5 separate regions of the Homo sapiens genome follow, and all the other regions are linked to region 5. Evidence: fine-mapped expression QTL. A gene starts in region 5. Each other region holds a variant in brackets. All regions are shown on one strand. Distances are from middle to middle.

Region 1 (5,104 bases), 82 kb before region 5:
AGCCTTTTTCAAAGGGGAGGTGATTCCCCTAAAGAAAGCCTCCCAGGCAAGTTGGAATTAGAGCATTCCAGACAAATACAAAGAAGAAAAAACAAGTGATGACATCTGATATGGTCAAAAGGTTTCTTCTGAAGCCTCCTAATAACAACAGCTTGTGTTCACTGACTACAGGCCAGGCACTATCTGAGCACTTTACATATGTAACTCATTTAAGTTTCACAAAAAACCCTCTAGAAACATAACAATGCATTACACAGATGAGCCAGGGGTTGAGATACTTGCTCAATTTCACCCAGCAGGTGGGTGGCACAGTTAGGATTTGAACCCCAGAAGGCTGTATTCCCATTCCACAGCACTGGGCAGTATCAGAGGGTCTCGGAGTCAGGCTTCTCTCACACCCATAATCTGTCAAGGGAGCCACAGATGGCAGAGTCCAGTGACAAGGACAAACTGGGTACTGCCCGTAGACTCTGGGCCTCAGTTTCAATACATGAAGGCAATGAACCAGATCACCTCTGAGATCTCTTCTGACATTTGCAAATTTGTCTAAAGTTGGCGGGCCTCACTACCTCTCCAAGGTTCCTTCGCAAAAGTCCTGCAACCATTGTGGTTTTGGATACAGCACAAGGTGTGAGGGGCTAGAGATCATCCTGTCCATGCAGAAATTCCTGCATTGGGACAGATTCCTGCTGTGGACTTGTGGTGAGAGCCGGAAAACAGGCAGGAGTCCCACTACTTAAGAGATACCTGGGGCTGCTCTGGTCCATGGCTCTGCCCAGCCTTCTGGCTTCCCGATCCCGCCAAATAGTCAAGTCTAAAACAGGCTGCAGTGAGAGGGAAGTGAGATGGTTTCTCATGCCATTTGCAACCTTCCTCTCCTATGAGACAAATCTTCCTAGCAGTCAGACAGGAAGCCTATTGTCCAGTCAGGATCCCTTTTCTCATGAGAACTTCCCACTCACTGGGGGAGAGCCAGCCTGCAGTAGCTCAAGCCTTTTTCAGGGTGTGGCACCAGAGCTGGGGTGGGAGAACACAGGGAGAAACCACCCATGGCTCAGGATACCTCCTGTGGCTCTTCTCGGGCCCCCACCACTGCCTTCCTAAGAGAGGCTCAACCTAAGCCCTCCTCGGAAGATCAGCAACTGACAGGTGGGACAGGCCTCGGACCTGTCCATCTTGTTTTAGGCCTGGGCCCCTCACTTCCTCCCCCTCACAGGAGAGGGAAAATGCCAGCCAGAGGCCTCAGAGCCAACAAGCACTTTCTTTTACTGCACCCTGCCTCAAACATAAAAACTCCTGTCACCTGGAGTTTTCATGTTTGAGGCACAGCGTTCAATAAAAGAAAGTGCTTTTAGTGGCACCTAAGCCTCTAAAGTCCTTAGTCATTCAGTCAAAAGTACTGTTTCTCTCCCAGCCTAGAAACCCTGAACTGAAAGCACATGCAGTCAGCTGGAACCCCACCCATCTCCAAGGTTCCAAGGCCACCTTCCCAGGCATGGCCAGAGAGAAACAATGAGCAGCACAGGGTGGAGCTTACCAGCTTGGGCTGAGACTTCACGGCCTGGGGTTGCACACTGCTCCAACAGTTACCCACTGGGTAGTCCTGGGGAGATCTTCCTATTCCTCAGTTTCCTCATTTTTAACATGGGGATTCAAAAGGTTAATCACAACTATGCAGGTAAAGTACCTGGTAATGGGTCTGTCACATACTAAGTGTTCAATAACAGCAGCTTTATTATTCCTCCTCTGGGTTCCCATTACATCATCTTCACTCCTATTTGTAACCTATCACCATGTTGTAGTCTCTGCAGGTTTTCTCACAGGTTGGTCCTTCCTCCATTTCCCCAATAACCACCAACCCACACATCTAAGCCATAGGGCAGAGACTTGTTCTGCTCATTTTTGTATCCCTAGTACCTGACAAATAATCCAGGAGATAGTAGATGCTTAGTAGAAAACCAACGTGACTTG[C/A]AAAATTTTGTCCTTATTTCAAAACACTGTCTTGTTTTCAACTGCAATGAGCCACAATGATTTTTGATTTGAGATGAGTCAATAACAGACAACGGCAAAGAGCATCCCTCTCCAGGGTACAATTTGTATTCTCCAAATTGGTACCTAACTGTGAAAATACACTGCCTACCTAACAGGACCAGAGCCACATGGAGTAAGAGCATAGTCTTGGGGGTCAGACAGATGAATCTGGGTTTGACCCAGGGGCCTGCTCTGCAGCCTTGTCAACTGTCATAACTCCTCTGAGCCTTAGTCCTTAGCAGCCAATATCCAGCTCCACAGGTTTTTTTAGAAGACTAACAAAACTGCATACTTGAAAGGGTCTTGTATCATGCCTGGCACATTACTAGGCACTGATAAATTTTCATGTAGCAAACTAAACCCTTATCTCTGATTTTTGGAATGGGCAAAGGCTTTGGTAAAAAGAAAAAGGATTATTTCAGAAATTTCTGGATATTTGGAGAGGGGGCAGGCAGAAAACAGAGCAGGATAAGCACTTTGGGGGGTGTTGTTTGCTCTCTCCTTGTTCCAGTTCAGTAATAAGCCGGCTCCTTTTTCACTTCCCGTTCTCGACAATACAGCCCAGGCTGCTCTTGGCTGACAAATGGACTCCATATGGCCTGTTACCCTTTCACCTCCTCTTGTTCTTGCAGCTCAGGGACCCAGGGAAACAGGCTGCCAGCTGGGGCTGGGAACCCCTCCCCCTCCCACTGTTACCACTGCTACAAGGAGGGGCAGGCCAGAGGACCATTCTCCTTTATCCTGCTGCTCCAGGTACAGGGCTAGCCCACTCAGTGCCCAAAGCCACTACCACTGCTATAGGTCAGTACAGTGACCTATAGAGCAGAGCCCACAGCTGTCTCCTACCTCCACCTCCAGATGGTGGGATGACAATGGAGGTAGGGAGCCAGGCTATTCCACGTGTATTAGCAAGTGTTACTGTTTCCCTTGACAGTGGCAGTTAAAGGCTTAAGAAAAAGCAGAGAATGCTTATTTTTTCCTCATCAGCCATTGTCACTTCTTGTTCTCATCTCCTTCACCATATCACCTACCTGAGCTAAAATATGTGTTTGCTCTCCCCTCTCAGAATTCCTCATCTCCCAGAGGAGATGACTGGTCCTCTCAGGAAAGGCCCAGATGGCTGTTTACGGCAGCTCAGAAGGAAAGCTGATGAGCAGGTGATAACTGACTTAGGAGTCTGGCTTAGAGTTTAAAACAGGGTTGGACTCTTGGGTACAAAGGCCAAAATTGTGGTTTCATTTCCAATCCTACCAGCTAATGGTAACTCCTAATGCCAAGTACAGTCCCAGGCATACACAGCAGGGCCTCAAGAAACACACAATCAAATTTAAAACAAATTTAATGATCTCTGTTGCCAAAAGGATACAAGTAAGGAAGAGAATTAACATTTATCACCAGGCACTGCACTGGTACTTTAAAAGTGTTATCCTATTAAATTCTTCCACCCTAGGAAGAAGGTGGTATAAAACTTGATTTGTTCAGAAAAAACTGAGGCTCTGAAAAATTTAGTAATGGACTGAGGTCACCTGGATTCTAAGTACTAGAGTCTGCATTCAAATTCTGGCTGGCCCTTCTACAAGGAAGCTTCTTGATTTTTTCTGATGCCACCAGAAAAAAATTTACCCCAAGACCTACAAAGTATAACATAGGGGTGGGATACATATGGACAAAAGCTGCTATAATTCCTGTTTGGAGAAGAATATGGCCTGGTGAGTTTAGTTGTGCCCAGAGGACTCAGTTCATATCTCAGGTGGGGCCACATTTTTCCAGAGAAGTGGAGGGAAAAGGCAGGACAGTTTCCTTCACTAATTTCTGTGTACTACACACAATGGAGCTATTTAAGGATCACAGACAGCAAAGTTGCAAGTGGGAGAAGATATGTAGGCATTTTCAGCTGAGAACACATGACTTCTTTTTTTTTTTTTTTTTTGAGACGGAGTCTCACTCTGTCACCCAAGCTGGAGTGCAGTGGCATGATCTCAGCTCACTGCAACCTCCGCCTCCCGGGTTCAAGCAATTCTCCTGCCTCAGCCTCCTGAGTAGCTGGGACTACAGGTGTGTGCCACCACACCGGGCTAATTTTTGTATTTTCGGTAGAGACAGGTTTCACCATGTTGGCTAGGCTGGTCTTGAACACCTGACCTCAGGTAATCCACCCGCCTCAGCCTCCCAAAGTACTGGGATTACAGGCGTGAGCCACCAAGCCTGGCTGAGAACACAAGACTTCTAAGACGGATATGTGAAAGGAAGGTTGTCACTAAATGCAGAATGGGGATGTGACCTGGAATTAGAGGGCTACCTTTCTGCCACTGCCCAGAACACACAGGGCCACTGGGTTATCACTGCCAAAGCCTGAAATAAACAGCCTCTGCCACATACTCCCAAACAGGGGGTCAGGTAGTGTGCTGATTCTCTTAGGCACTCAACAGGCCACTGCTACTCACAAAGGCCTAGACAACCGCAAAGAAAGAAAGGAAACACCAGTAAACTCTAGTTATGGATGGTAACAGAAATCCACTGAGGCAATGGCCCCAAATCAGCAAAACACCATAGGTCTTTGAGAAACACCAGCAGTTGAGGGGTGGAGGTCTGAATGGGTTTTTTGTCGCTGTTGTTTTGAGATAGAGTTTTGCTCTGTTGCCCAGGCTGGTGTCTAGTGGCACGATCTTGTCTTGGCTCACTGCAACCTCTGCCTTCTCCCAGGTTGAAGCAATTCTCATGCCTCAGCCTCTTGTGTAGCTGGGATTACAGGTGCACACCACCAAGTCCGGCTAATTTTTTGTATTTTTAGTAAGGACAGGGTTTCGCCATGTTGCCTGGGCTGGTCTTGAACTCCTGACCTCAGGTGATGCACCTGCTTCAACCTCCCAAAGTGCTAGGTAGGATTACAGATGTGAGCCACTGCACCCAGCCCTGAATGGTCTTTTCTGAAGAAAGAGATGTGACTGGGTCTAAGGCATACCATGAAGTGAGCCCTGTACATTCTGGGGGGTGGGGTCCCACCATGAGACAGGGACTACAAATACAAAAGAGACAATAAAAGGTGTGTGGTTTTTTGGTGCGGGGGGAGAAG
Region 2 (5,104 bases), 92 kb before region 5:
GGCCCTTTATGTTTGTGAGTTATAACAGTGACTGATGAAGGACTGTGAAGATATATAAAAAATGTTACTCCTCAAGAGGGAATGAGGAACTGCCAGGAAGGGCCAAGTAACTGCAGAAGCCACAATGGCCTGGAAGAAAAGTCCATCATCGGGAATCCACTCAGGGCCAGCACCATCAGCTCTGCCCTTCATGCTCCTCGCCCCTAGACAACTTGTGGCTAAAGCAGTAGACTGGAAAAGGAAACTGATAAAGGCAGGCAAGAAAATCCACTTCCTTTGTTTCTCCTTAGTGTGGTGCAGTGGTTCTAAATCCTAGTTGCACAGAAAAACTGAGCTTTTTATAAAAAGTGAATGCCAGGGTTCCATTCCAAACCAAATAAATCAGAATGGGAATGGAGGCCCAAGTGTTGATATTTGTTTTTAAACTCCCCCAGGTGCCTCTATATTGCAGCCGGGACTGGGAACCAGGAGTGCAGGATAGTGGCTCACAAACTTAAGTGTTCATCAAAATCACCTGGACAGCTTGTTAAACAATATCACTGGGCCTCACCCCTAGAGCTTCTCATTTGGTTGATCCTAACAAGTTCCATGATCCTGACGCTGCTGGAACCACGCTTTGAGAACGACTGGTGTAGGGGAAATGACATGGCTTTGGAATTGAACAGATTTCCGTTTTTTTTTGTTTTTTTTTTTTAATGGGACAGAGTCTTACTCTGTCTCCCAGACTGGAGCGCAGTGGTGTGATCTCGGCTCACTGCAACCTCTGCCTCGTGGGTTCAAGTGATTCTCCTGCCTCAGCCTCCAGAGTAGCTGGGACTACAGGCGCGCGCCACCACACCCGGCTAATTGTTTTGTATTTTTAGTAGAGACAGGGTTTCACCATGTTGGTCAAGCTGGTCTCAAACTCCTGACCTCAGGCAATCCGCCCACCTCAGCCTCCCTAAGTGCTGAGATTACAGGCATGAGCCACCGCGCGCAGCCTCAGTTCTGAGCTCTGTTGTCATCTAGAGGTATAACCCTGAGTGAATAACCTCTCTGAGCCTCAATTTCCTCATCTGCAATGTTCCTATGAGGATTAAGATAATGTATGCAAAGCAATAAGCACAATGGTAGGCACATCTAGGAGTTTGACACATGGCAGGGCCCTCCCCACTCCCTGGACACACACAGACCCACAGAGATTGGGGCCACCAGCAACCCTCCACCAAAGACTGGCCCCCACAGTAATGCTTGCACCTGCCTGTCTCATGTCAGCTCTGCCACTGGACTCACCTGCTATGATGGAAAGACTTCAGCTTTGGCTGCAGCAGCACAAACAGCACCACGAGGAGGAGAATGAGCGCCACGGAGCTGGCAGTAGAAGCCACTATAGACAGCGTGGGGACCCCAAGTGATGTGTGGGTGTCTTTATCTATAAAAACAAGCCATCATCAGAAGGGTTTTGTACCCAAATACACAAAACAGCTGATGGGCCCCACAGCTGATCTTGTCAAATGCCTCCTGAATGGTGCAATACAGACATCCTACGGTCAGGGTCATTTCAGGAATAACAGCTTAGAATGACCTATGTATACACAGTTCTTTTGGAAAAGGACCATTTCCCTATCCTGTTTCCTGAATAAAAAATTCCCCTCACTTCCAATCTTTGAGGTCCATCTGACACATAAACTCACTTAACCCTAGAGATTTTACCTTTATAAACCACTTTGATCCCATCCTCAAAAGCTTGAAGTTTGTAAACATCGACAATTTAACTGGGCATGTCATTCCACCATCTTAAGTTCTACCTATGTTCTTCCCAAGTGGCAGGATTAATTTACAGAAACTGGACTGTAATAAAACCTTGTCTTAAGATCCACAGCTTTAATTGTAACTCTCAGGTTGGTTCCCACCCATTTCTGGGGTGTCATGGGTTAAACATGCTCTGGTCTTGAAGCCTGAGTGGGAAGCACAAAGATGGTTATATGACACACTTT[C/A]CTGCAAGCAGGTGGATTTTCCTGTCATGCAAGACAGGAGGAAGCAGTAAGGGTGGGAGGTCTTTTGTCCAGCTGGTCTGTAGCTCCATTCAAGGAAAAATGAAATGGACGATACATTAGAGAAGGTATTAGCATTGTGCTCACTGTGAGGGCAGAACATGGTCAAGGGTCACCAACACTTGGCCATGCAAACAAGAGATCCTGAACATCAAACGGGCTTTACAGAGCAGGGCAGATGGCTCAATGAAATGCAATAGGACATGCACCAGCAACCTCAAGTATCTTCCACAAAGACATGAAGACCCAAGGAAGGGAGGCTGCAGAGCATCAACTGGGGCTGGGCTGCACCACAGCAAAGAGTGCTCTGGAGGAAGCATGCTTTGCATCCTGTGAGTTAACAGAAAGCAGAACCCCAGCAGCATCCCTTTTTCATCTGCCAGACTGACCCTCGTTGAGACGGCAGCTAATCTCCATGGCTGGTTTCCACTCGCCATTCTTACACGTCAGGTATTTGTAATCGCCCTTCAACATGTAGCCTTCAGCACACAGGTATTCGATGACACTGCCTGCTGTCAGGGGGTCTCTGCAGGGCCGGGGGTGGCAGATGTAGCCACCATTCTCTGGCTCCGGTGGTAGGGGGCACACTGCAAAGACAGGGAGAGAGCAGGGGTACAGTGGTGAGGTATCCAGTAGGAGTCTGCTCTCAGTGACGCAGCTCTGAAGGCCTCTACAGGAAACACAGGAGGAGGAAATAACCCTTTCCTTGGAGGAACTGTTAACCAAACCCTGGAAACTCAGGTTGCCACTGACAGAGGGGAAGTATACTGGCAACAGGGGAAGTGGCTGCTTGCAACATTTCCCCCTCCCTCCCCACCATGCCTTAAGAGAATTCCATCCATAAATGAACGGCAGACTCTAAAGTCTTGAACCTATAGAGATCTAGACATAATAGTTTTAATAAAGCCTGTATTATGTAATAAAGCCTGTAACACACATAATAAATCACAGTGAAAGGAGGAAAAATGTTGGCCTTGTTTCCACTATCAATGTCAGAAAAGACTCTATTGTATAATAAAAACGTGCACTCTTGGCCTGAGAGGGGATTTCTGATAGATTCCCTGGGAGGCTTCCCAAACCCCCTGTGCATCTTCCATTCTCTGACTATAGTAGTCAATGGCACCACCTGTCTCTATCCCATGATAAATTCCACATTTTCCACTGATATACAGGACTGCCTAGTTTCAAAAGCACCTTCACCTCCCGCCTTATTTGTCCTGACAACTCTGTGAGACAGCTATCGTTACTCTCCTTTGAAGAAGAAGACACTGAGGGCCACAAAAGTTAAGTGACTTTTAGCCAAGCTTACAGCAAGGTAAATGGCAGGCTTGGGGTCACAGTCAAATCTTCTGATTCTAAACCTCTGCTCTTTCCACCAGCAGACATTGCTTCTACCCCATGAGCTGCATGGCCTTTAAGGGGTATGGGTGTCAAGGTTACCTCCCCTTTGCCCTCTTGAAACTGGTCAGTTAGGGAGATGGCAGGCAGTGCCTAGGTATGGTGGGAACCCTGGTAAGTTGCAGTAATGGTAAGTCAGAGGATCTGGAAGGTCTGAGTGGACCTGAGGAGGAAAAGGACAACCTCTGATTCCACTCTGGACTGACACTGCAAAACTGAAGACCCCAGGTGGTGGACTGCCGGGTATTACCAGCCAAAACAGTAAAAGTGGGGGCACTACAGAATCACTGTTTGGAATGTTGGGCTGAGGTAGAATGGCCAGGCAACCATGAATGCAATAAAGACCAAAAGTTTTCCAAAGGAAATTCAATTTTGCTGACAAATAACCTGCCCCCATCCTGAATATCACAAGGACATCTGTATGAGAATAAGAACGGTCGTTTTCTTTTTCTCATTTCCTCTGACAGGCCTGGAGTGACTGAGAGTCACACCACAGTGCCTGACTGTCCAAGATAAGGCAGTTTCTCATCCACGAGAGGGGCAGACCACACCACCCTGCAGCTGTGCCCTCACAGCCTCTCTCACCCATGCCTCTTCTTTCCAATCTACAAATGGCTGTTAAGCAAGCTGACTGCCAGCCAGGTTGGGGAGTGGACACCAAATGGAAAAGAGATGATGGCTCCCTACCCTCAATTTGCTTATCACTTGAGATGGGGAGAAAAGGCACTTTTTCTTTTCTTTTTTTAGGTGATGCCACTAAAAAAAAGATGCCATTTTTAAAAAGCTATTAACAAAACAAAGCTGGGTAGGTGCCACAGGGATCCAGAGAAGTCTGGCAGCTTCTCTGAAACTAGGAGATGAGCTCCAGTAAGCTCCCCCCAAGTCCCCTCTAAGGACCCAACTTGTCCCTATTCTCCTCCACCACCAGAGTCTTGAACAGGAGAAAGAAAAACGCAAACACTCCTTCTGGTGCTCTTTAACTTTGGCCAAGTAGTTCAGAGCGCTGGCCAGCTAGATTTCCAAAGAAACCTCCGCAAACTGCTTTAGCCTTTACACTTTCCCTCTTTTGTTCAGGGCAGCAGGCCTGCCACAGATCTCCCTGACTTACTCCCTGGCTCTCCTTGGACTGTGTCTAATTGGTTCATTTCCGTGGCATAATTAATGCTGAGCACCCCATGGCAGCTCCTGAAAGCAGGCAGGACCCACACACAAGTCCAATGTGCTGGGAAGGACAGTCTCAGGGGAAGAGCTGCTGATTCTAAAGCCACTCCTGCTTTGCTGGGTATCTCTTTCCATAAAACCCACATCTCCACAGAATCTTTGAGCGGGATCCTGGCGGTCACCTAGCACTCATAATAAGTCAAAAAAAAAAAAAAGTGAGGACTGCAAAGAAGTGACTTGTAATTCAGTTTAATTTCAATTCAACTAATACTTACTGATTCTGAGTAGGGGGTCACTGTGCTATGCTCTGAAAAAGGACAAAAATATAAGCACCTCAGGTCCTTCTTGCCAAATAGGGATATGACCATTAAGTGCACACATATATTTAAAAAATCATTCTCTTTATGGCTTCTGGATTAAGGACTCTTTCTCTACTCTGAGTTTATAAACATACTCTCCAGTATTTTCTTGTAATGCTTTAGGGATTAGGTTTTTGTTATCTAAAATACTTT
Region 3 (5,104 bases), 220 kb after region 5:
CCTTGGCCGGTTGAACATTTTAAACATTAATTATGTATATAGTATCCTCCTTGCTACAAGTATTAGGTGTTTTTTTTTTTTAAACTAATGTATATAATGAGTGACTTTCCAGAGCTGCTTGTTGTTTTATAAATATTCTCTTCTTATTTGTCACATGTTATTTTGTTACAGTATGGAAATATTTTACAGGTATCCCTTATATATTCTGGTTAAGCTCAAACACTATAGGCTTGTGTGTCTGTCTGTTTTTAATAGGTTGTTTTAATAGATTTAAGGGATACAAGTGTAGTCTTCTTATATAGATATATGGCATAGTAGTAAAGTCTGGGCCTTTTTTTTTTTTTCCTTAAGACACGGGGTCTTGCTCTGTCACCCAGGCTGGGGTACAGTGGTGATAATGGCTTATTGCAGTCTCAGTTTCCTGGGCTCAAGCAGTCCTCCTGCCTCAGCCTCCCAAATAGCTGGGACTAGAGGCACCTGCCGCCACACCTGGCTAATTTTTTGGTTTTTTTATAGAGATGGGGTCACTGTGTTGCACATGTTGGTCTCAGACTTCTAGCCTCAGGCAGTTCTCCTGCCTTAGCCTCCCAAAGTTCTGGGATTACAAGCATGAGCCACCGCGCCAACCAAGTCTGGGCTTTTATTGTAGCCATCACCTGGTGTACATTGTACGCAGTAGTGATTTTTCATCCCTCACCATTCTCCCACCTTTTGTAGTCTCCAGTGTCAGTTATTCCACTCTGTCTGTCCATGTGCACACATCATTTAGCCTCCACTAATAAATGAGAACATTAAATGTTTGACTTTCTGAGTTACTTCACTTGAGATAATGACCTCCAATTCCATCCATGTTGCTGCAAAGACATGGTTTTATTCTTTTTTTAATAGCTGAGTAGTATTCCATGGGATGTGTGTGCATGCATTCTCATACACCACATTTCCTTTGTCTAGTCATCCATTGATGGATACGTAGTTGATTCCATGACTTTGCTGTTGTGTATAGTACTGCCGTAAACGTATGAGTGCAGGTGTCTTTGTTTCTTTTTGTTTTTTGAGACAGAGTCTCACTCTGTCGCCCAGGCTGGAGTGCAGTGGTGCATCTCAGCTCACTGCAACTTCTGCCTTCTTGGTTCAAATGATTCTCCTTCCTCAGTCTCCTCAGTAGCTGGGACTACAGGTGTGTGCCACCACGCCCAGCTAATTTTTGTATTTTTAGTAAAGACAGGGTTTCGCCACGTTGGCCAGGCTGGTCCCGAACTCCTGACCTCAAGTGATCCACCCACCTCGGCTTCCCAAAGTGCTGGGATTACAGGCGTGAGCCACCACTCCAGGCCATCTACTCTAATTCTTAAAGAAGAACATGGCATTTTTTTCTTCATCTCTTTACAGATCCATTTCTCTGCTGACATTTCTGCCTGCTATTGATGTAGATTTTGTATGCAGGCTCTCTTAGCAAATTGTTACCTAACCTACATTATCATGTTTGGTCTTTGATTCTGCAATACTCTTATTTCTCAGGGCAGTTTCAGGGTTCTAGAAAAATTGAACAGAAACTACAGTTTTTCCGATATTACTCTCTTTCTTCACCCCTACACAATTTCCCCTATTATTAATGAATTTCACTGGTGTGGTGCATTTGTAACAGTGGTGAACCAGTATTCATTACTGATACATTGTCATTAAGTAAAGTTCATAGTTCATACTAGGTTTCATTCTTATGTCCTACATTACTGTGGATTTTCCCAAATGCGCAGTGTCATGTGTCCGCCATTACAGCATCACACAGAATGGTTTCACTGCCCTGCCCTAAACATTTCTTGTGCTCTACCTATTCATCCCCTCCTACCCCACCCTCAACCTCTGGGAACCATTGGTCTTTTTACTGTCTCCATAGTTTTGTCTTTTCCAGAATGTCATATAGTTGGAATCATTATCGTGTGTGGCTTTTTCTTAACTGGCTTTTTTTACTTAGCAATGTGCATTTATTATGTTTCCCCCATGTCTTTTCATGACTTGGTAGCTCTTTTTCTAAAAATTAAAAGTGGTGATTTATTTCCCATTTAAAAAACTAAAACAAAAAAATGTTAA[AATAAT/T]TATTAAATAAGTTCTCACATGATGTGGTTGCCAAATGGTAATTTTATTATTCTTTTTTTTTTTTTCTTGTAGTAAATATTCCCCTGTAGATCAGAGCATTTTTTTCCTCCCCCCTTTTTTTTAAGAGCAGTTAAAGACTTTATTTAAGACCATGTTTTTAGAGCAGTTTTAGGCTTATGGGAAAATTGTTTGGAAAGTACAGAGCTCCAGCATACGCCTTCTTTCCTCCCCTTCTTAGTTTCCCCTATTAGTGCATCTTCTATTAGTCTGATTACACTTGTTGGGATTGGTGAATTAATATTCATAGATTATTATTAACTAAAGTTCGCAGTTTATGTTAGGGTTTACTGTATGTGTTGAACATTCTGTGGGTTTTGACATGTATAATTACGTGTATCTACCTTTACTGTATCATACAGAGTAGTTTCACTACCAGAAATCCCCATTGCTCCACCTATACCTCCTTCCCTGCCACCACCCCCAAACCCCTGATCTTTTTACCATATCTGTAGTTTTGCCTTTTCTGGAATGTCATGTTAGAGTTACGGAGTATGAAGCCTTTTCAGACTGGCTGCTTTAACCTAGCAATATGCTTTTTTTTTTTTTTTTTTTTTTTTTTTGGCGTGCGAGACAGAGTCTTACTCTGTCACCCAGGCTGGAATGCTGTGACGTAATCTCAGCTCACTGCAACCTCTGCCTCCCTGGTTCAAGCGATTCTCCTGCCTCAGCCACCCAAGTAGCTGGGATTACAGGCCTGCGCCACCATGCCTGGCTACCTTTTTTTGTATTTTTAGTAGAGACGGGTTTTACTGTGTAGGCCAGGCTGGTCTCAAACTCCTGACCTCAAGTGATCCGTCCACCTCAGCCTCCCAAAGTCTGGGGATCACAGGCATGAGCCCCCATGCCTGGCCAACCTAGCAGTATGCTTTTATGGTTCTTACTTTTTGTGTGTGTGGCTGCATAGCTGATTTCTTTTTATTGCTGAATAATATTCCCTTGAATGAATGTACCATGGTTTGGTTATCCATTCACTTATTGAAGAGCATCTTGGTTGCTTCTATTTTTTGGCAATTATGAATAAAGCTGCTATAAACATTTCTGTGTAGGCTTTTGTGTGGACCTAAGTTTTCAGCTCATTTGCGTAAATACGTAGGAGAGTGATTGCTAGATTATGTGGTACAAGTATGTTTAGCTTTGTCAGAAACTGCCAAACTGTCTTCAGACGTGGCAGGACCATTTTGCATTCCCACCAGCGTGAATGAGTTTCTGTTCCACATCCTTACCAGCATTTGGTGTTGTCACTGATTTAGATTTTAGCCATTCTAAGGTATCTTATTGTTTTAATTTGCAATTCCCTAATGACATACAATGTCATCTTTTCATGTGCTTATTTGCCATCTGCATCTTTATTGAGGTATCCAGATCTTCTGCCTATTTTTCATTGAGTGATTATGGTTAAGTTTTAGGAGTTCTTTGTATATTTTTAGACATTAGTCCTTTATCAGATAGATGTTTTATAAAGGTTTTCTCCCCGTTTGTGGTGTCTTCTCACTTTCTTAATAGTGTCTTTTGGAGCACAAAAGTTTTTTATTTTTATAAACTTTAACTTGCATATTTTTGTGTTTTTGGTGTCATATCTAAGAAACCATTGGTTTATCCAAGGTCACAAATATTAATGCCTTTATTTTTTTCTATGGGTCTTATAGTTTGGGCTCCTACTTTTAAGTCTCTGGTCTGTTGTAGAGATGTGTCCAACTTCATTCTTTCACATGTGACTATCCTGTTGTCCTAGCATCATTTGTTGAAAATACTGTTCTTTGTTGAATTGTTTTGGCATGCTTGTCAAAAAGCAGTTGACCATAAATGTGAGGGTTTGTTTCTGGACTCTCATTTCTGTTCCATTGATGTAGATACCTATCCTGATGCCAATACCATATTGTCTTGATTGGAGTAGTTTCATAGTAAGTTTTGAAATCAGGAAGTTTGAATCCTCCAGTGTTTTTCTTTTTCAAGATTATTTTGGCTGTCTTGGGTCTCCTGCATTTCTGTGTCAAACTTAGGATTAGCTTGTTGGTTTCTGCAAAAACAGCTTGGATTTTTATGGGAATTGCGTTGAATCCGTAGATCATCTGAGGGAGTATTGGCATCAGGTCTTCCAACTCATGAACATGGGATGTCTTTCCATTTATTAAGCATGGTGTGGTGGCTTTACTTTCTGCATGGCGTGGTGGCTCACACCTGTTATCCCAGGACTTTGGGAGGCCAAGGTGAGCGGATTGCTTGAGCCCAGGAGTTTGAGACTAGCCTGGGCAACATGATGAAACCCCTGCTCTCCAAAAAGTACAAAAATTAGCTGGGCATGGTGGCGCGTACCTGTAGTCACAGATCCTTGGGAGGATCACTTGAACTTAAGAGGTCAAGGCTGCAGTGAGCTGCAATTGGGCCACTGCACTCCAGCCTGGGCAACAGAATGAGACTGTGTCTCAAGGGAAAGAAAAGAGTCCTTCCATGACATTTTATAGTGTAGGGTGTACACGTTTTGTACTACTTTTGTTTCGTTTATTTCTAAGAATTTTATTCTTTTTTACGCTGTTATAAATGGAGTTTTCTTAATTTTATTTTCAGACTTGTTGTTAAGGCATAGAAATAAAATTTATTTTCATATACCAATCCTATATCCTGCAACCTTGCTGTACTCATTTCTTAGTTCTAATAGATTTTTATTGTTTCCTTAGGATTTTATATCTGTAAGATAATGTCATCTGCAAATAATGATGGCTGTACTTCTTCCTTTCCAATCTGAAGGCCTGTTATCTCTTTTTCTTGCCTAATTGCCCTGGCTAGAACTTCTAGTACAATGTTGAATACAAGTAGCGCAATAAATATTCTGGTATTCTTCCTAATCTTAACAGAAAAGCATCCCGTCTTTAACCATTAAGTATAATGGAGGCCGGGCATGGTGGCTTATGCCTGTAATCCCAGCACTTTGGGAGGCCGACGCGGGTGGATC
Region 4 (5,104 bases), 110 kb before region 5:
TGGCATTGTAGGGTTCATTCTGTTTGTTTTGGTTGGGGTCGTTCCCTCTTTCTGAATGTGTAACTCTCTTGTGTGCCCTCACTTACTGTCTTTAGGACTGAATGAGTTCAGTAAGGGAGGAAGATAAGGAACTACATTGTAATTTTTTTTTCGAGACTGAGTCTCTCTCTGTCGCCCAGGCTGGAGTGCAGTAGCGCAATCTCAACTCACTACAACCTCCGCCTCCCAAGTTCAAGTGATTCTCCTGCCTCAGCCTCCCAAGTAGCTGGGATTACAGGCATGCGCCACTACACCTGGCTAATTTTTTTTATTTTTAGTGAAGATGGGGTTTCACCATATTGGCCAGGCTGGTCTCAAACTCCTGACCTCCGGTGATCTGCCCTTCTTGGCCTCCCAAAGTGCTGGGATTACAGGCATGAGCTACTGCGCCTAGCCCTATGTTGTAATTTTGATGGTTGTGGGCCGAATTGCCCTCCATAGACAATGTACCAATTTACACTCCTACTAGATACCTTTAAGCCTTTTCTTTTCCCAACCTGAGGTGAAAAAATATTATTTCTGATGTTTTAATATGTATTACTCTTATCATAAAATAGCACGTTTTTTGAATGTTTCTAATAAAAAATAGAAAAAGTTAACAAGGAGAGAATGTTGTAAATGGGTGTAACTTCTGTCTCTCATTTTCTGCCCTATGGAAAACAATAAAAAGGGTCAAAACACGTCTGCATTGGAATAGCTGCCTGGCTGTTGCTGGCAGGAACTTAGTTATGAGTTGTGGGTGTCCTTCTGTTGTCCACCTGGAAGAACAAGTGCATTGGTGCTGTCCTGGAGACTTGAACGGCTCATGTGATTTCTCAAAACGCCTCCTGCAGTCAGCCGGCAGGAGCTGGCTCATGGTAACCAAAGAGTCAGCTATGCTCAGTGCTCTGTTATTGTGGGGCATAGGCTCCAGGACAAGAAGACTTTGGACACTTTGGGTGTCCTGGAATTTCCTTCTTGTGATTAAAATAATTAAAATGTAGCAGTCTAACTCAGAGAAGAAAGGCATCCCTAATTTGAGCAGATCTTAAGACAATTATATGTTAGGTTAAAATTGCCCATATCTGAACTTTTTTTCAACCTGCAAAAATGACAGTTTCATGTGGTTCATGTTTTAGATGTTGGTACACTTGGCCGGGCGCAGTGGCTCATACCTGTAATCCCAGCACTTTGGGAGGCCGAGGTGGGCAGATCGCTTAGGCTCAGGAGTTCAAGACCAGCCTGGGCAACATGGTGAAGTCCCATCTCTACCAAAAAAAACACAGAAAATTAGCTGGGTGTGGTGGTGGGTGCCTGTGGTCCCAGCTACTCGAGAGGCCAAAGCACGAGAATTCCTTGATCCTGGGAGGCAGAGGTTGCAGTGAGCCGAGATCACACCACTGCACTCCAGCCTGGCAACACAGCAAGACTCTGTCTTAAAAAAAAAAAAAAGATGCTTGTACATTTGCTTCTATGGGTCTCTACAGCCTGAAAAGTCCTCTTCTTCCCATCCCACAGCCCCTCATTTACTTACTTCTCTACGAATAATATCGAAACACAACAATTTAGACCCAATGCGAGTGGCACCTTTCCGGGGAATCTTTGTTCATACCCTAAAGAAATTAGCTCCTTTCTCATCACTACCAAGCACTTTTCAGGGTGTATCATTATAGGTTTGTTTTTTGCTTCTTTGTTTCTTTCAATTTTAAGTTGTGCCTTAAGTTTTAGATAGCTGTTTAATCTCTTTCTCCCCTATTGGTCTACAAACTCTTTAAGGGCAAAGACTGGCTCTTGTTCATCACTATGTTCCTAGAACCTAACACTAGGCTTTGTGTAAAGTCCTCAAAATGAATGAATAAATAAATAAAAGTTTGTTGAATGAATTAGCAAACAAGTCAGTGAATGAGGATTGCAGCAGGAATGGGGAATGGCCGTCCCAGAGAGAGGCTACAGCACCAAAAGTCCCTAAAAGTCTCTGGACCCCAGCTGCTCAAGGCCCTCAAGAGGCCAACCCCAGAAGCCAGGGCAGCCCCCACGCTGGGTGCATTTGTGTTGAGCCATAGTCTTGTCGCATACCCCAGTCCCTTCAGACGCTGAGCCCTGCTGACACGCTTCATCTGCAATAGGCTGCCTTTGCTGCAGGCAGGGCTACTTACTCCCACAGAAAACTCTGCTATGGGGAAGTCCATGCTTGCCAAAACCTCTGCAGGAAGAACCATAGAATCATCTACTCCC[C/T]CAGGTTCAGAACAGTGTATACTGTCCCAGACAGCCTGCTCAGGACATTCCTAGCTTGTGAAATTTCCTTTTCTAGGGGCACTGGAGCGTCACAGGAAATGCCGAGCAGCTGTTTGCCTCTTGGGTGTGGGATTGGATGGTCCCCAAGCCCGGTAATGCTCCTTCATCACCAGGCAGCTTGGAGGATGAACCTAGGCTCAACTTGGGAATGTGTCATGTCTCACCCCAGGTTCACAGCTGATGAAATTCCCTTTTCAGTAACAGAAAGAGAAAAGCCTGGCAAGTGCCCCCAGCTCTAGTCCCAAGGAGAAGTGGGAAGACCTGAGAATACAGAGCATTCTCCTCACCTTTCAGAAGCAAGGCCCAGGGAGGAGACAGGGGCTGCCTGGGTCTCCTGGCCTTGCCTGATCTTTCCAGGGACCCAGAACCCATCCTGACTGCTGAGACTGCTGAGCATCTGGGACTGCATTTTGCTAAATGGCTTGGTGTCCTGGTTTTGGACATTGCTGAGAGGGATTCTTGGGCAGGATAGTAGGTGTGAAGGGGTCAGGTGATCAAGAACCCAGGGAGAAAAGCTGGGGAGTAGAAGAGGTGAGCAAGTGAGCAGCGTGAGGTGAAGAGGCCAGGAGTGGCACACCTGAATTCAAACCGCAACTCAGCTGAGGATGCATGACCTATGTGGTCTTGGACTGTACTTGAATCTCTCTGAGCCTTACTGTCCTCACCTGTAAAAAGGGTAATGACATCTGCCTTGCAAGACTGGCTGAGTTGATTGATTAAAATAACACCTCTCTCTCTCTGTCTCTTTTTTGTTTCTTTGTTTTGGAGACAGGGTCTCACTCTGTTGCCCAGGCTGGAGTGCAGTGAAGCAATCATAGCTCACTGCAGCCTCAACCTCCTGGGCTCAAGCAGTCCTCCCACCTCAGCCTCCTGAGTACCTGGGACTACAGGTGCAAACCACCTCACCCGGCTAATTTTTAAAATTTTTTGAAGAGATAGGATCTTGCTCTGTTGCCCAGGCTGGTCTCAAACTCTTGGCCTCAAGTGATCCCTCCCACCTCGACCTCCCAAAGTGCTGGGATTGCAGCCATGAGCCATTTCTCCTGGCCTAAAATAGTATCTTTAAAGCACCTTACCCAGTCCCGGGAACCTATTAGGTGCTCAGCAAACATCACGGAAGGTTGGGGAAAGGGAAGCTGTGTGGTAAATGTCCTGTGGAGCCAACACTCCCCCACGTGCTCCCCACCAGACCAAAGTCCCTATTGGGGCACAACTGCATTTGCTGCTGTCGCCTCTCATCTTGAAGACAGACCGTGAGACCCACTCTGTATGCAGCTTGGCTTCTGGGATCACTTGAGTGGGCAAGGTTGGGACAGTGCCATTTCCCCCACCCTGGGCCGCTGCTGGGAAGGCAGACCAGCCAGCTTCTACCATGGACTGGGCCACTCAGAATCTCCCTGTGATCCCTTCTTCTCATTCCAAGGCCTGTGGAGAAAAGAAGGAGTCTCCTTTCAGCCGGGCCTTCCCACTACCAGAGTGGGGGATTCAGCAGCAGTGCCTCTGGCCAGCCAGAGTCTCACTACCCTTGCCTCTGAGCTCCCTCCTCTCCTGCCACTTCCAATGCAGGGGAAAGAGGCCGCCTGTCACCCAGTGAGGTGGAAGCAGGTGATAAACAAGGCAGCTCTCTTCCTTCCCTAGTCTCCTCTCCATAGTCTAGGCTGCAGATGGGCCACAGCCTCAGGTTGAGATCAAGACAGGAAGGAAAATAAAGTGCTGCCCCAGGTCTTGAACTCTGGGAAGTATTCCCTATTCATACTGGGGCTCTTTTCCTTGCCTCCTGCCCAGCCCTGATCTGAAGGAACTAGGAAAGGAGTGAAGAGCTTCTCAGAACTTCCCCCAGACACCTAGGCTGCCTCAGGAGGTGATATGGTTTGACTCTGTGTCCCCATCCAAATCTCACCTTGAATTGTAATAATCCCCACATATCAAGGGCGGGACCAGGTGGAGGTAATTGAATCATGGGGACAGTTTCCCCCATGCTGTTCTCATGATCGTGAATTCTCACAAGATGTGATGGTTTGTTTTTGTTTTTTGTTTGTTTGAGACTGAATCTCGCTCTATTGCCCAGGCTGGAGTGCAGTAGCGCAATCTCAGCTCACTGCAACCTCTGCCTCCCGGGTTCAAGCGATCCTTATGCCTCAGCCTCCCAAGTAGCTGGGATTACAGGCATAAGCCACCAGGCCTGGCTAATTTTTGTATTTTTAGTAGAGATGGGGTTTCACCATGTTGGCCAGGCTTGTCTCGAACTCCTGACCTCAGGTAATCCATCCCCCTCGGCCTCCCAAAGTGCTGGGATTACAGACATGAGCCACTGTGCCTGGCCGATGTGATGGTTTTATAAGGGTCTTCCCCCTTCGCTTGGCACTCATTCTCTCTCCTGCTACCCTGTGAAGAGGAGCCTTCCCTCATGATTGTGAGTTTCCTGAGGCTTCCCCAACCACGCAGAACCATGAGTTAATTAAACTTCTTTTCTTCATAAATTACCCAGTCTCATGTTATTTCTTCATAGCAGCATGAGAATGGACTAATACAGGAGTTTGTCCTCAGGTGTCGCTCTTCCTTCCAACCTCTCCAGGAGCAGCATTCAGGGCCAAGGGAGCCACGGTGACTCTAGCGCAGTGAGTCATAGGTGTTCAGGATGCAGAGGGAAGTTGTGTTGGAGAACAGGATGGGGCTGGGCTCCAAAGCCAAGCAGAAGAGAGTGGACTTGCTGAAGATGGTGGGACAGGGACACACACTGGACCTGGACTAGGGGCTTAGAATTTCAGCCCAGCTCTGCCACCAACTAGCC
Region 5 (5,104 bases):
GCAGAGAATCGTTTGAACCTGGGAGGTGAAGGTTGCAGTGAGCCGAGATCGTGCCACTGCACTCCAGCCCGGGTGACAGAGCGAGACTCCATCTCAAAAAAAATAAAAAATAAAAAAGAACACAAGTTCAATCACCACACCTCAGAGACTGACCAGGAAAACAGACAAAGTGCTGAGGTCTCTTTATCTGCCAGCCTGTATCTGTAACACCTCATTCTACCCTTCTTTCTCTTCTATCTCACCAAATTCTGGGCTTTCAGAAGGCAGGCTTCAGCGAAAGAAGTCAAACTTGCCCATTTGACAGTGGGTTTGCTCTCAGGGTTTAAACACTGAGCACCCTGGCACCTGTCTCTATCTAGGTGTAAGTGAGGATTTGTTTCATATGCCATTTCTACTACAGTATCCAAAAAATTACTCTGCAGACAGGAAGTCCTATCTATCAGGACTCATACCAATACTGTCCTCTGTTTAACTCGCTGGGCAGAAGTTCCTTCAGCAGCAAATGGCCAGCAATGAAAGCTAACAACATAAACCAAAACAAATGGACTTAAAGGCTGTGAGTCCATGAGAGCTGGATTCTGACTTATTCAATGCAGTACCTGCAATACCTAGCACAGTGCCTGGCATACATTCGGTATCACATAACTACTTGGGAGTACTGAATGAAAGAATGAACAAATGAATCTTATGCAAACATACCGTAAGTGTGTACCCAGGAGAAAGAGTTTAGAATGCTCATGATCTGAGAAACAGCCTGAAGCAGCAGTGCTTTCAGAAGGTTTTAGAAAGACTCCAGGTTCAATTTTATCAAAAGGTAAACAAACCAGAAACTAGCAGTATAATCTAGTAGTTCAGACTGTGGGCTCCACCATGAGATACCTATGTGACATGGGCGAGTTATTTAACTTGTTTGGTTTGGGTCTCAACTAGAAGAATGGGGATAATAATATCTACATCAAAAGTCTGTTATTAAATGAGTTCAAAAAAGTAAAGCCCTTAGCACAAAGGTTGGTACTCAGTAAGTCCTCAAGAACCTTTCCATATTATTGCTGCTTAAATACCTTCTTTCCTGAGATGTAGACATACCTCCCCCAACTCCAGGAAAATTTTAATTTCTGGTTGAATATGCTTCTAGCTAAAAACACAAAACCCAGAGAACTCAGAAGTCAGTGCCAAGCACATGTCTCTACTAGCCTCCACTAGATGGTGACAGTTTGGGTGTGGAATTCCCAAAACAGAAAAGGTGTGTGTGCGTAACTCCTATGTATGTTTTTACACCAGAGGAACGAAAACAGCAAGAAATGAATTAACTACTGTGAAGGAAAGACATACTTCCCATCTCTGTAGATCAAAAAAGGGAGTAAATCCCTAGGCCTAATTGAACTGAGTAATCTTACTGCACCTCTGGAAGAGCACACAGGAGCCCAGTTAGCGAGAGCAACAAAGCCCAGCATGTCGCCTGCCACTGAAAGAAAATTCTGTGGGAACAACAGCTTTAGGCCTCCTTGCCCAGACGCCAACTTCCCTTTAACCAGCCCAAGACTTTATTTTGACGCCTCTTTGCTCCTGGGTCTTGCTGTCCCCATAACCACCTCCCCCTCCTGCTCCTAAATTCGTCCAGGGTAACTTTTCTCCACTTCAGCAGCTCCCCAGCCACGACTCCCATGAGGGAGAGTCAGATCCACACTCATAGCTGGGGTCTCAAAACCAAGCGAAAAAAGGAAAGTCTGTATGTACGTGCCTACTTTTTGAAAGAAAATAGCTGGTTTCGGGGAGTTTAGCCTGGTTAATAAGAGAAGTTTTTGAGATTAAAGAGCAGCCGAGGCGCGGGGGCTCCCGAATGCCGCGGTGCGCACAGGCGGGCTCTGAGATTTCCTCAGGAAATCCACCTTCTCTAAGCCAGCCCTGCCCCAGCGCAAGCCCCGCAGCTTTGCTGGGCTGAGGGCAGTAATGACAGTGGCACAGAGGGCCTCTGCCTACCTCCTCTGCACCCATCGGCACGGCGTCTGGCTCTTCCGGTGCTGCCCGGGCAGCGACGCGGGACGGCGCGCCCCGGACCGCGGGTCACCAAGTTCCCGGCCGCAAACCAGCCGCCGGTCCCCCCGGCCGCGCAGCCCCCACTGCTGGCCGGCTGGCCGCGCCACGCCAGCGCGGGGCTCCCAGCGGCGCGGCTCGCGGCCGGGTGACAGCGGGCCGGCGCAGAGAAGCGCGGGGAGCCGCCGAAGCCGGCCCGGGCTCCGGCCAGCGTCACTCCTGGGCGGTGCGCGCTGGTCCCGCGCCCCTGACAGCCGGCCGAGCGCGTCGATGGCACAATGCCGGCCCCGCCGCCCCCGGGCCGCGGTGACAACTCACCCGGGAGCCGGCGGAGACCTCCGGGATGGGGGCGCTCACAGCTTCCACGCCGCCGCTTGCGCGCGCCCGCAGTCTTCTCGGGTCTAGGCGAGGCCCCGCGTGCCCTTGTCTAGCTCGCTCTGGCCGGCGCTGTGGGCAGAGGAAGCGGGCGGGAGGGAGGGAGGAGGTGGGGCGGTCGCCGGCTTCGGAGAATAGAACGCGGCGGTAGCGACGGCTGCAGCGCCCGCGTCACTGACCCAGCTGTACCGCGCGGGCGGGGGAGGCCCCGCGGAGGGGAGGGGGCGGGGAAGGGGCGGGAAAGGGGCAGGGCCAGGCGCGCACGCAACGGCGCCGGCGTCGCGCCGCCGCGACCGCCCCGCCGGGAGGCCCTGCACGCACGCGCCGCCGGCCGGGCCAGGTACCCAAGGGAGAAGCGACGCGGTTGGGGAGGTGGGGGGTCCTTAAAGAGACAGTCCCTCTGCGCTGGAGTGGATGGGGCGGTGGCACCGACTCAGCTGGACTATGCGGCGTTTCCAGTGCGCTCTCCAGTTCGTTTACTATTATTATTATTTGCATGATTGAATTACTATTATTTGCAAAGAATTGTACTGCCCTGAGGTTTACAAGGCTTTTGGCGCATGTTGCCTTGTTAGCTCTTGAATTGCTCGTCTGACCTAGCTCGTCTGAAGCAGGTTATTATCTCCCTGTTAAGCAGTAATCCGAACTGTGGTTCCTAGCCTGCCAACATTAAAGCTGCCCGGGGGGTGGGTGGGGGTGAAAATGCAGATTCGGGGCCCCGAATGACCTCCAGCCATTGTGATTCAGTGGGGTCGGACTTGGGAATCTGTATTTTCACTAGCATTCTGAAGTGAGTGATCCTTCAGCATACTAAAAGCACACAAGGGATCTCAAGGTTGAGAAAACCGCAGTTCAGAGCCAGGACTGGCAGAGCCCGGGCTAGAAGCCTGCCACATTCCTAACTGTATTTCCCCTCTTGAGCCTTGCCTTCTGGGGCTATTTTCTAGCACATACTGAGTGAGCAGTTTGTGCACTGTATGGCTACATCGTTTATTGGTGATCTCTCATGCAGTGTGTCCTCGGTTTATGTGTTTACAGGGCCCGTGGCGCCTTGATGGGGAGGACTCTGGCTTTTTATCTTTGTACCCCAGGGCCTTGCACCGTGTCGGTCTCAGAGGTCCTCCATAAGTGTTAAGGAACTCCTACTTGTAAATCAGTGGTAGAGTCCACATCTGGACCTACAGACTTGTGTCTTTGCTGCAGCTTGGGTCAGGCAGGCCTCTTCTCCCAGATGCTCTTGGACAAAAGGATACACCTTCTCAGGGCCTCTCACCAGGCCTAGTTCTAGTAGGCTTTCGGGAAAAGCACTGTGAATTAACAGGGCATGTCCTTGTGAAGTAGCTTGAACCAAATAAACAGGATGCTCCTCCCCATGCACACAGACCCATCCCCAAAAGAACCCTTCCCTTCTGGGCCCCACAGCAACCTGTGGCTCGTTGCTATAATGCCTTTTTCATAAGTCTATCCTTGTTCTGCCTTCTTTCTTCCTTGCCTTCTTGGGTCCAGACTCATTAGAGAAGATGGGCACCCCTCCCTTCCTGCTCATTTGGGGCCACACTGCCCAGACCACTAGAAGATTGAAAAGCACAATTCAGAACTACCTGGGTCTGCCTCAGAGCACAACCAAATCAGTGTGGGCAGCAGGAACATGCCAGGCAGACCCAAGGCTCAGGGAGGGGACAAGGGGGAAGGAAGCAAGGGAAAGGGATGGAGGAAGAATTGGAGAAGATGAATGGAGGAAGGAGAAAAAGAAAGAAAGGAAAGGGAAGAAAGCAGGCATGGATGGTTCAGGTCAGATCAACTGCCAAAGTAACTGAGCCCCTGGCTGTGCACTGAAGTCAGTTTGGCCATTAAGAGGCTCAGTAACTTCATACAAGAACTGCCACCTTATAAAATCCCTTGTGAGACCCTATGCAGATCTGTCCATCACTACCCAAAAATCCTCAGTCGGGCGCGGTAGCTCACGCCTGTAATCCCAGCACTTTGGGAGGCTAAGGCAGGCAGATCACGAAGTCAGGAGTTTGAGACCAGCCTGGACAACATGGCGAAACCCCTTCTCTACTAAAAATACAAAAATTAGCCAGGCGTGGTGGCACATGCCTGTAATCCTAGCTATTCAGGAGCCTGAGGCAGGAGAATTGCTTGAACTCAGGAAGCAGAGGTTGCAGTGAGCCGAGATCGTGCCATTGCATTCCAGCCTGGGTGACAGAGTGAGACTGTCTCAAAAAAAAAAAATCCTCTCCCAGACCTTCAGGGTCCACAGAATGAACTCAAAGTCATCAGCAAGGACTGTAGTATCCTGTGCTGTCCACAGTCCGGCCCAAATGCTCTCCATCCCTCCACACACCCCACTCCAGCCTCCCCATACCACCTGCTGGTCTCTAACAAGCCATTCCTGTCACAAACCAGGTGCCCATGCTGTTTCCTCAATCTTGAAGGCCTTCTCTACTTACCCTTCAGAATCTTCCCAAGGCTGCTGCTTCTACTTTTCTGTGGCACTTTGGTTGAGCCCCAAAGTGCCACAGAAAAGTATTAAATTAAAATTTTTAAACATTTTAAATATTTAATTATTTATTTATTTATTTTGACGGAGTCTTGCTCTGTCGCCCAGGCTGGAGTGCAGTGGCATGATCTGAGCTCACTGCAACCTCCGCCTCCCGGGTTCAGGGGATTCTCCTGCCTCAGTCTCCCGAGT

Direction of the effects. Positions count from the first base shown, and alleles are read on the strand shown. Sizes are in standard deviations (SD) of each study's normalised expression. Not every link is listed here.
As copies of T replace C in region 4, the expression in testis of the gene that starts at base 2,585 in region 5 goes down (small effect, 0.20 SD a copy in GTEx).

What was found. PIP is the estimated chance that this variant, and not a neighbour inherited with it, causes the effect.
Region 1: its variant is fine-mapped to the expression of SUSD6 in whole blood (TOPMed, PIP 0.97).
Region 2: its variant is fine-mapped to the expression of SUSD6 in whole blood (TOPMed, PIP 0.99).
Region 3: its variant is fine-mapped to the expression of SUSD6 in visceral fat (GTEx, PIP 0.97).
Region 4: its variant is fine-mapped to the expression of SUSD6 in testis (GTEx, PIP above 0.99).

The regions. Positions count from the first base shown.
Region 1 is chr14:69,690,896-69,695,999 of GRCh38, reverse strand. All of the region lies in intron 2 of SUSD6 (sushi domain containing 6), which reads right to left. Among named protein-coding and RNA genes, the nearest start is that of SRSF5, 74 kb to the left of the region's middle. RefSeq lists an enhancer at 1,465-1,514. The variant C/A (reference allele first, on the strand shown) is at 1,972.
Region 2 is chr14:69,700,911-69,706,014 of GRCh38, reverse strand. SUSD6 (sushi domain containing 6) reads right to left here. Exons shown (of 6, transcript NM_014734.4): 3 at 2,423-2,620; 4 at 1,273-1,411. Among named protein-coding and RNA genes, the nearest start is that of SRSF5, 64 kb to the left of the region's middle. RefSeq lists a silencer at 4,429-4,723. The variant C/A (reference allele first, on the strand shown) is at 1,977.
Region 3 is chr14:69,389,265-69,394,368 of GRCh38, reverse strand. The region is part of intron 2 of ERH (ERH mRNA splicing and mitosis factor); the gene reads left to right. Among named protein-coding and RNA genes, the nearest start is that of ERH, 6.5 kb to the left of the region's middle. The variant AATAAT/T (reference allele first, on the strand shown) is at 2,089.
Region 4 is chr14:69,716,873-69,721,976 of GRCh38, reverse strand. No RefSeq gene overlaps it. Among named protein-coding and RNA genes, the nearest start is that of SRSF5, 48 kb to the left of the region's middle. The variant C/T (reference allele first, on the strand shown) is at 2,254.
Region 5 is chr14:69,609,077-69,614,180 of GRCh38, reverse strand. SUSD6 (sushi domain containing 6) reads right to left here and starts at 2,585. Exons shown (of 6, transcript NM_014734.4): 1 at 2,353-2,585. RefSeq lists a silencer at 2,067-2,836.